Regions from separate parts of the Homo sapiens genome. Here region 1 is linked to region 2. The links come from fine-mapping of genetic effects on gene expression. A gene starts in region 2. The other region holds a variant in brackets. All regions are shown on one strand. Distances are from middle to middle. Region 1 has its middle 13 kb from the start of SLC44A2. Region 2 holds the start of AP1M2 (adaptor related protein complex 1 subunit mu 2).

Region 1 (5,375 bases), 25 kb after region 2:
CAAGTGATCCTCCCACCTCAGCCTCTCAAGGTACTGAGATTACAGGTGTAAGCCACCATGCCCAGCCCATAACTCTTTTTAAATGTACAGATCTATGATGTTACTCTTATTTATTTATTTATTTTTTGAGACAGAATCTGTCTCTGTTGCCCAGGCTGAAGGGCAGGGCACAATCTCGGCTGACTGCAGCCTCTGCCTCCTGGGTTCAAGTTATTCTCCTGCCTCAGCCTCCCGAATAGCTGGGATTATAGGCATGCACAACCATGCCCGGCTAATTTTTGTATTTTTAGTAGAGACAGGGTTTCACTATGTTGACCAGGCTGGTCTCAAACTCGTGACCTCAAATGATTCTCCCACTTTGGCCTCCCAAAGTGCTGGGATTACAGGCGTGAGCCACCGAGCCTGGCTAATGTTACTTATATTTAGATTGTTGGGTGGTGGCCTGTTTTTGTAAGGCTAGTGGGCTAAGAATGGCTCTTATATTTTTAAATGGTTGTGAAAAAAGAAAAAAAAATATATATATATGACAGATGATATGTGAACCACAAAGCTTAAAATCTTTAATATCTTGTCCTTAACAGAAAACATTTGCAGAGCCCTGGTAGAGAATTCTCCCTAGAGACTTTTCTTTTCCTTTTTTTTTTTTTTTTTTGAGACTGAGTCTCACTCAGTCACCCAGGCTGGAGTGCAGTGACGTGATCTCGGCTCACTGCAAGCTCCGCCTCCCGGGTTCACGCCATTCTCCTGCCTCAGCCTCCCGAGTAGCTGGGATTACAGGCGCCCGCCACCATGCCCGGCTGATTTTTTTGTATTTTTTTAGTAGAAACGGGGTTTCACTGTGTTAGCCAGATGGTCTTGATCTCCTGACCTCGTGATCTGCCCGCCTCGGCCTCCCAAAGTGCTGGGATTACAGTCGTGAGCCACCGCGCCTGGCTTTTTTTTTTTTTTTTTTTTTTTTTGAGATGGAGTTTCACTCTTGTTGCCCAGGCTGGAGTGCAATGGCGTGATCTTGGCTCACTGCAACCTTTGCCTCCCGGGTTCAAGTGATTCTCTGGCCTCAGCCTCCCGAGTAGCTGGGATTACAGGCATGTGCCACCATGCCTGGCTCATTTTTGTATTTTTAGTAGAGACGGGGTTTCACCATGTTGGCCAGGCTGGTCTGGAACTCCTGACCTCAAGTGATCCGCTCGCCTCGGCCTCCCAAAGTGCTGGGATTACAGTTGTGAGCCACCGCGCCCCGCCAAGACTTTTCTTTTGCCATTTCCCAATCGATCCCCAAGGTGAACATGATATTTATTTATTTATTTTTAATTTAAAAAAAAATTTTTTTTGAGAGGGAGTCTTATGATGTTCCCCAGGCTGGTTGAATTCCCCGGCTGAAGCGATCCTTCCCCTTCAACCTCCTAAGTAGGGGACTATAGGCATGTGCCTCTGTGCCGGGCTAGAGAGCATTATTTTAAAATATTATTTTAGGCTGCGTGCAGTGCCTCACGCCTGTAATCCCAGCACTTTGTGAGGCCCAGGCGGGTAGGTCACTTGAGGTCAGGAGTTCGAGACCAGCCTGACCAAGATGGTGAAACCCCATCTCTGCTAACACTACAAAATTTAGCCAGGCGTGGTGGCAGGTACCTGTAATCTCAGCTACTCAGGGGGCTGAGGCAGGAGAATTGCTTGAACCTGGGCAGCAGAGGTTGCAGTTAGCCAAGATTGCGCCACTGCACTCCAGCCTGGGCAAGAGAGTGAGACACTATTTCAAAAAATAATAAATAAATAAATAAACAAACAAGAGACCCGGTGCAGTGGTTCACTCCTGTAATCCCAGCTGTTTGTGAGGCCAAGGTGGGTGGATCGTGGTTCACTCCTATAATCCCAGCTGTTTGTGAGGCCAAGGTGGGTGGATCGCTTGAGTCCAGGAGTTTGAGACTAGCCTGGGCAACATTGCAAAACCCCTTCTTCCCAAAAATATGCAAAAAAATTAGCTGGTCATGGTGGCTTATGCCTGTGGTCCGAGCCACTCTGGAGGGTGAGGTGGGAGGATTGCTTGAGCCTAGGAGGCAGAGGTTGCAGTGAGCCGACATTGTGCCACTGCACTCCAACCTAGGTAACAGAATGAGACCCCATCTCAAATATACAAGTAAACAAATAAACTCTTACATAATAAAATTAATAAATTCCCTCTGTTCTGGCAGGGGGACTAAAAGCTAATTATAAGTAAGTCCTCAAGTCCATGGAAGATTTTAGCTTTCCATGTGAAAGAATCTTCTACAAATCTTTGGCTAGCTGTTTTCACCTCAGAGGTAGCTCAGCCAAGAAGTCTCCTTCCAGATTGTGACCTATTAATTTCTGTGTGTGTGTGGCATCTGGATCTTTTTAAAGCTTCTTAGGCTGAGCCGGGTGTGGTGGCTCACTCCTATAATCCCAGCACTTTGGGATGCCAGGGCGGAAGGATCACTTGAGCCCAGGAATTTTATACCAGCCTGGGCAACATAGTGAGACCCTGTTTCTGCAAAACAAAAAATTAAAAATTAGCGGGGCGTGGTGGTGCATGCCTGTGGTCCCATCCACTAGGGAGTCTGAGGC[G/A]GGAGGATCACTTGAGCCCAGGAGGTCAAGGCTGCAGTGAGCTATGATTGCGCCCCTGCACTTCATCCTGGGCAAAAAAGGAGACCCTGTCTCAAAAAATAAAAAATAAAAAAAGGTTAAATGTTTCTAGAAGCAAATCTCTGGTTTGGTGCCTAACATAGTCCAGCATACAGTAGGCGCTCTATCTTTTGCCCTTAACCCTTCTGAGCCTCCCCACCCAGATGCTGTCCTCAAACCCTTTGTCAAAAGAGGTGTCTGGGCAGCTGGCGATGCTCATTCCCCAGGCACAGACTTCTGGGAAGGCAGAGGCCAGTGGCTGGCTGTACGGGTGAGGCCTTGGGCCGCTGCAGCCCTTGGGGACTTGGCCAGTGTCCGGAAGCTGTGGGGGCTGGGTGGCATTTGATGTCCTGGCACCAGCACTGTGACTGGGCAGGCTGTGGCAGTTCTCTTATCGCCCACGCCCACTGCACTTGGGTGGGTCAGCCGTCACAGCCAGCAAGGCTGGCACCCGAAGGCTGCCTCTCCCAATCCTGGCCTTGTCCAACAGCTCAATTTTCCCAATTTTTCTTCCACACCATTGCCGCAACGTTATCTCTGCTTCTCCCAGTACCTGCCAAGGAAAAGGCCTGGGTTGGCTCCAGCAGGGCGTTGGTTTGACTCCTGGCTGTGCTCCTCACCAGCTGTGTGGCCCGAGCAAGCAACCTCAGTGTGCCCGTCGTGAAATGGGATCACACTAATGGTTAGTGGGGATTGGAGAAGTTTTTGTTTTGTTATTTTTATTTGTTTGGTTTTGGTTTTTTAGAGACAGTGTTTTCTGTCATCCAGGCTGGAGTGCAGTGGCGTGATCACAGCTCACTGCAGCCTCTGCCTCCCGGGCTCAAGCGATTCTCCCACCTCAGCCTCCTGAGTAGCTGGGACCACAGGCATGCACCACCACACCCAGATAATATAGTTATTTTTTACTTTTTATTTTCTTTCTTTTTTTTTTTTGAGATGGAGTCTTGCTCTGTCACCCAGGCTAGAGTGCAGTGGCGCAATCTTGGCTTGCCACAACCTCTGCCTCCTGGGTTCAAGTGATTCTCCTGCCTCAGCCTCCCGAGTAGCTGGGACTACAGGCGCCCACCACTATGCCCGGCTAATTTTTTGTATTTTTAGTAGACATGGGGTTTCACCACGTTGGACAGGCTGGTCTCAAACTCCTGACCTCAAGTAATCTGCCTGCCTTGACTTCCCAAAGTGCTGGGATTACAGGTGTAAGCCACTGCGCCTGGCCAAGTTGAAGACTTTGGCTGGGTGTAGTGGCTCATGCCTGTAGTTCAAGCACTTTGGGAGGCTAAGGCAGGAGGACTGCTTGAACCCAGGACTTTGAGACCAGCCTGGGCAACATAGTGAGACCCCGTCTCTTTAAGAAAAATGGAAGAGGGTGGTAGCAGAGTCAGAGGAGGACATGGAACGACGGAAGCGAGGTGGGTTTGATGTGATTGCTGTCTTTAAAAATGGAAGAAGTGGCCAGGAGCCAAGGAATGTGGGCGGCCTCTAGAAGGTGAAACAGACAAGGAAACAGATTTTCCCCTAAAATCTCCGAAAGAAACAGCCCTGCCTACACATCGATTGTAGCCCAGTGAGATGCATTTTGTGCTTCTGTCCTCCTGAGCTGTGAGATAATAAATTTGTGGTTTTTATTTATTATTATTATTATTATTTTTGAGACGAGTTTTGCTCTTGTTGCCCAGGCTGGAGTGCAGTGATGCGATCTTGGCTCACTGCAACCTCTGCTTCCTGGTTTCAAGCAATTCTACTGCCTCAGCCTCCTGAGTAGCTGGAATTACAGGTGCACACCACCACGCCCAGCTAATTTTTTGTATTTTTAGTAGAGATGGGGTTTCACCACGTTGGCCACGCTGGTCTGAAGCTCCTGACCTCAGGTGATCCACCTGCCTCGGCCTCCCAAAGTGCAGGGATTACAGGCATGAGCCACCGCACCCGTCCATAAATTTGTGTTTTTTTAAGCCACCAAGGCATTGGTGTCTTGTTACAGCAACGAAAGGAAATAATGCATTTGACCCTCAAACCACATGGGTGTGAGGGGCACCAACCCCCTGTGAAATTAGAAATCTGTGTATGCCTTAAGTTTTTGTAGAGACAGGGTTGTGATCTGTTGATCAGGCTGGTCTCCAACTCCTGGCCTCAAGAGATCCTCCCACCTCAGCCTCCCAAAATGCTGGGATTGCAGGCATGAGTCACCATGCCCGGCCTGCATATAACTGCATATAAGTCCCCCAAAACTTAATTAGTGATAGCCTACTGTTGACTCTTAGCCTTACGGACAACATATCAACATACACATATTGTGTCTCTGTATTATATATATCGTATTCTTACAATAAAGTAAGCTGAAGAAAAGAAAATGTGGCTGGGCGCGGTGGCTCACGCCGATAATCCCAGCACTTTGGGAGGCTGAGGCGGGCGGATCACCCGAGGTCAGGAGTTTGAGACCAACCTGGCCAACATGGTGAAACCACGTCTCTATTAAAAATACAAAAATTAGCCGGACATGGTGGTGCGTGCCTGTAATCCCAGGTACTTGGGAGGCTGAGGCAGGAGAATCTCTTGAACCCGGGAGGTAGAGGTCACAGTGAGCCAAGATTGCGCCACTGCACTCCAGCCTGGGTGACAGAATGAGACTCCGTCTCAAAAAAAAAAAAAAAAAAGAAGAAGAAAAGAAAAGAAAATGTTATTAAGTTGGTGCAAAAGTAATTGCGTTTTTTTTTTTTGCCATTCCTTTTAAGGGAAAA
Region 2 (5,375 bases):
CTGGAAGCATATGGAAACTGGGGATTGATCTAAGGCATCCTGGGTCCAGAATCCCTGCTGTTGCCCCAGACTTCATTTGCACCAAAGTGGGATTATTTAAAAAAACAACAACAACAAAAAAAAAAAACAAAGAAGAGGCCAGGTGCAATGACTCACTCATGAAGACCAAGGCAGGAGGATCCCTTGAGGCCAGGAGTTTGAGACCAGCTTTGGCAACATAGCGGGATCCCTCTACAAAAAATTTCAAGAATTAGCTGAGCATGGTGGCCTGCACCTCTGTAGTCACAGCTACTCTGGAGGCTAAGGCAGAAGAATCAATTGAGCCTAGGAGGTCGAGACTACAGTGAGCTGTGGTCATACTACTGCACTCCAGCCCGAGCAACAGAGTGAGACCCTGTCAAAAAAAGAAAGAAGAAAAGAAAGAAAGAAAGAAGGAAAGAAGGAAAGAAGGAAAGAAAGAAAGAAGAAAAAAAGAAAGAAAGAAAGAAAGAAAGAAAGAAAGAAAGAAAGAAAGAAAGAAAGAAAGAAAGAAAGAAAGAAAGATGACAGTTCATATGATTGTGCCTGGTAGTCAGGAAGACACCCATAATAGTAAACACTTCTGTCTGGACACGGTGGCTCACGCCTTTAATCCCAGCACTTTGGGAGGCTAAGGCGGGTGGATCATGAGGTCAAGAGTTCGAGACCATCCAGGCCAACATGATGAAACCCCGTCTCTACTAAAAATACAAAAATTAGCTTGGTGTGCTGGCGCATGACCGTAATCCCAGCTACTCAGGAGGCTAAGGCATGAGAATCACTTGAACCCAGGAGGTGAAGGTTGCTGTGAGCTGAGATCACACCAGCCTGGTGACAGAGCGAGACTCCATCTCCAAAAAAAAAAAAAATTAGTTAACCACTTCCTAAGGTTGTTTTGTCCAGTGTCTGAACAGGGAGGACCCATGGCAGGTTCTCAAACATCTTAGCTCTCACTATTAATATTAATGGGAATATTATTTTCACCACCACTCTTATTTTGGCTATTAAATGACAAGACAGGCTGACTGCAGTGGCTCACACCTGTCATCCGAACACTTTGGGAGGCTGAAGCAGGGGGATAGCTGGGGACCAGGAGTTCAAGACCATCCTGGACAACATAGCAAGACTCCATCTGTACAAAAAAATAAAAATAAAAAATAGGCCGGGTGCGGCCGGGCGCAGTGGCTCATGTCTGTAATCCCAGCACTTTGGGAGGCCGAGGTGGGCGGATCACGAGGTCAAGAGATTGAGACCATCCTGCCCAACATGGTGAAACCCCATCTCTACTAAAGATACAAAAAATTAGCCGGGCGTGATGGTGCGCGCCTGTAATCCCAGCTACTCAGGAGGCTGAGGAAGGAGAATCACTTGAACCTGGGAGGTGGAGGTTGCAGTGAGCCAAGATCATGCCATTGCACTCCAGCCTGGGTGACAAGGCGAGACTCTGTCTTGAAAAAAAAAAAAAATACAAAAATTAGCCAGGCATGGTGGCATGCACCTGTAGTCCCAGCTACTCGGGAGGCTGAGGCAGGAGAATTGCTTCAACCCGGGAGGTGGAGGTTGCAGTGAGCCAAGATGGAGCCACTGCACTCCAGCCTGGGTGACAGAGCAAGACTCTATTTAAAAAAAAAAAAAAAAAAAAATTAAAAATAGCCGGGCATGGAGGGGTCAGCCCGCAGCCCCAGATATTCAGGAGTTTGAGAGCAGCTTTGGCAACATAGCGGGATCCCTCTACAAAAAAATGTCAAGAATTAGCCAGGCATGGTGGCCTGCACCTGTGTAGTCACAGCTACTCCGGAGACTGAGGCAGGAGGATCGCTTGAGCCCAGGAATTCCAGGCTGCAGTGAGCTATGATCGCACCACTGCACTCAAGCCTGGGAGACAGCAAGAGACCCTGTCTCCAAAATAAAAAAAGACAAGAGGAATAAAAGGACTTCAGGAAGAGGCAAGGCAGCCACAGATGGGGGGAGTTAGAGGCCCCTGTTCCAGTTGCCTTCCCCAGGTATTAACACTGTGGATGCCGACAGTGATGGAGATAATTTCAATTTGCTGAGTCCCTAATATTTCCAGAAAGGCCACTATGCTAAGTAGTTTACACGCAGCGAGTTGTATTAATTCTCATTGGGTGGGGACCTCTGTTGCTCCCATTTTTACATACAGAGAAACTGAGGCCCTAGGAGGCGAACCCCTTGGCCTCAGGCACAAGGCGAGTGGATGCTGGAGGTGGGATTCCCAGGGATTGCAGGGGGAGGGGGTGTTCCCAGACCTCTTCCTGGCCCGCGCGGAGGGGTCGCCCCTGAATCCCTGGGAGCGAGACCTCACCTGTCCGTCTCCCAACTCCTCATGCCCAGCCTCACCTTGCCCTTAACGTCCAGAATGAAGACAGCCGAGGCGGACATGGTGGCGGCCGAAGGACTTAGGAGTCGGGGAGGGAGCGCCGGGAGGCGATGGCGGCGCCGCTTCCTTCTTCCTGCGGAAGCGCCTGCGCCCAGGTGAGAGCCCAGGTGTGTGCGTCTTAAAGGGGAGGCGGCCAGGTGAGCAGCGCTGTCGGCCAACTTGAAGATGGCTGCGGGGCCGGGAGAGGTACTGCGACTTCAGATGGGTCTGCTGCCCCCCTTCACTTTCCCTAGCCACCCAGGAGTAATGACGGGTGGAGACCCCAAACCAATCAACCATCCTTCCATCCATTCATTCATCCTTCCTTTCATTCATCTATCCATCCATTCGTCCATCCATCCATTCATTCTTGCATTCATTAATCCATCCACGCATCCACTCATTTAGCCATTCATTAATCCATCTTCCATCGATTCATTGATCCATCCTTCCATTCGTCATCCATTTCTTCATCCATTTTTGCATTCATTTATTTGTTCGTCTATCCATTATCCATTCATCCATCCATTTATTCATCCATTCATTCATCCCTTCTTGCATTCATTCATTTATTCATCTTTCCATTCATCCATCCATTCATCCATTCTAACATTCATCAATTTATTCATCTATCCATCCATCCATCCATCCGTTCATCCATTCTTGCATCATTAATTTATTCATCTATCCATTCATCAATCCATCCATCCATCCATTCTTGCATTCATTAATTTATTCATCTATCCATTCATCCACCCATCTATCCATTCATTCATCCTCTCATTGATTCATCCATCCATTCACCTTCTTTCTCCTCTGTCTCACCCACACACGTCAGCCCCCATACAGCAGGGACTTTGTCTTGTTCATGTTTATGTCCCTAGTGCTCAGCACTGGGTGCTCAAAATTTGCCCAATTCATTCATTCACTCATTCATATAATAATTTTCACTGGTGAATTTTACTGACTGAATTTGAAATATTCATTCACTCAGTAACAGGAACTGTGGATATAATTCCGAGCAGGACAAATGTACTTGCTTTTATTATTCTTACAAATTTACTCTTATTCATTTCAAATAAAAAATTTATTTTTTTTTGTTTTTTGAAATGGAGTCTCACTCTGTTGCCCATGCTGGAGTGCAGTGGAATGATTTTGGCTCACTGCAACCTCCACCTCCCAGGTTCAAGCAATCCTCCTGCCTCAGCACCCCTAGTAGCTGGGATTACAGGCAAGCGCCACCATGCCCAGCTAATTTTTTTTTTTTTTTAGACTCCAGGCTGGAGTGCAGTGGCATGATCTCTACTCACTACAACCTCCGCTTCCCGGGTTCAAGGGATTCTGCTGCCTCAGCCTCCCAAGTAGCTGGGATTACAGGTATGCGCCATCACGCCTGGCTAATTTTGTATTTTTAATAGAGATGGGGTTTCACCATGTTGGCCAGGCTGGTCTCGAACTCCCGACCTCAGGTGATCCACCCGCCTCAGCGTCCCAAAGGGCTGAGATTACAGGCGTGAGCCACCGCACCCAGCCAAAAAACTTTTTTTGTAGAGACAGGGTCTCACTCTGTACCCTAGACTGGACTGCAGTGATGCAATCATGGCTCACTACAGCCTCAACTTCCTGGGCTCAAGCCATCCTCCTGCCTCAGCCTCCCTAGTAACTGGAACTACAGGCACAAACCGCCACACCCAGCTAATTTTTTTTGAGACAGAATTTTGCTCTAGTTTACCAGGCTAGAGTGCAGTGATGTGATCTCGGCTCGCTGAAACCTATGCCTCCTAGGTTCAAGCAATTCTCCTGCCTCAGCCTCCCGAGTAGCTGAGATTACAGGCATGCGCCACCATGCCCGGCTACTTTTTTTGTATTTTTAGTAGAGACAGGGTTTCTCCATGTTGGTCAGGCTGGTCTTGAACTCACGACCTCAGGTGATCCACCCGCCTTGGCCTCCCAAATTGCTAGGATGACAGATGTGAGCCACTGCGCCTGGCCACAACTAGCTAATTTTTTTTTTTTTTTTTAATTTGGAGTCTCGTCCTGTTGCCCAGGCTGGAGTGCAATGGCACAATCTCGGCTCACTGCAACCTCTGCCTCCCAGGCTCAAGCGATTCTGCTGCCTCAGCCTCCCAAGTAACTGGGATTACAGGCGTGCACCACCAAGCCCAGCTAATTTTTTGTATCTTTAGTAGAGATGGGGTTTCACCATGTTGGCCAGGCTGGTCTCGAACTCCTGACCTCGTGATCCATCTGCCTTGGCCTCCCAAAATGCTGGGATTACAGGCGTGAGCCACTGCGCCTGGCCCACACCTAGCTGATTTTTTTTTTTTTTTTTGAGACAGAGTCTGGCTTTGTCGCCCAGGATGGAGTGCAGTGGCGCAATCTCTGCTCACTGCAACCTCTGCCTCCCAGCTTCAAGCAATTCTCTGCCTCAGACTCCCAAGTAGCTGGGATTACAGGCGCCTGCCACCACGCCCGGCTAATTTTTTTTTTGTATTTTTAGTAGAGACGGGGGTTTCACCATCTTGGCCAGGCTGGTCTTGAACTCCTGACCTCGTGATCCACCCGCCTCAGCCTCCCAAAATGCTGGGATGACAGGTGTGAGCCACCGCGCCAGGCCAGGCCCACCTAGCTAATTTTTTTTTTTCTTTGAGATGGAGTCTCGCTCTGTTACCCAGGCTGGAGTGCAATGGCGCGATCTCAACTCACTGCAAGCTCCGCCTCCCAGGTTCACACCATTCTCCTGCCTCAGCCTCCCGAGTGGCTGGGACTACAGGCGCCTGCCAACACGCCTGGCTAACTTTTTGTACTTTTAGTAAAGACAGGGTTTCACCATGTTAGCCAGGATGGTCTGGATCTCCTGACCTCGTGATCCGCCCGCTTCGGCCTCCCAAAGTGCTGGGACTACAGGTGTAAGCCACCGCACCCGGCCCGACCTAGCTAATTTTTACATTTTTTGTAGAGATGGTGTATCGGTATGTTG

What was found. PIP is the estimated chance that this variant, and not a neighbour inherited with it, causes the effect. A credible set is the group of variants that fine-mapping cannot tell apart.
Region 1: its variant is the best candidate, but not a certain one, in a credible set for the expression of AP1M2 in whole blood (TOPMed, PIP 0.74).

The regions. Positions count from the first base shown.
Region 1 is chr19:10,609,698-10,615,072 of GRCh38, forward strand. It overlaps a transcript of SLC44A2 not described here. Among named protein-coding and RNA genes, the nearest start is that of SLC44A2, 13 kb to the right of the region's middle. The variant G/A (reference allele first, on the strand shown) is at 2,581.
Region 2 is chr19:10,584,814-10,590,188 of GRCh38, forward strand. It overlaps AP1M2 (adaptor related protein complex 1 subunit mu 2), which reads right to left and starts at 2,499. Exons shown (of 12, transcript NM_005498.5): 1 at 2,377-2,499. The coding sequence starts at 2,418.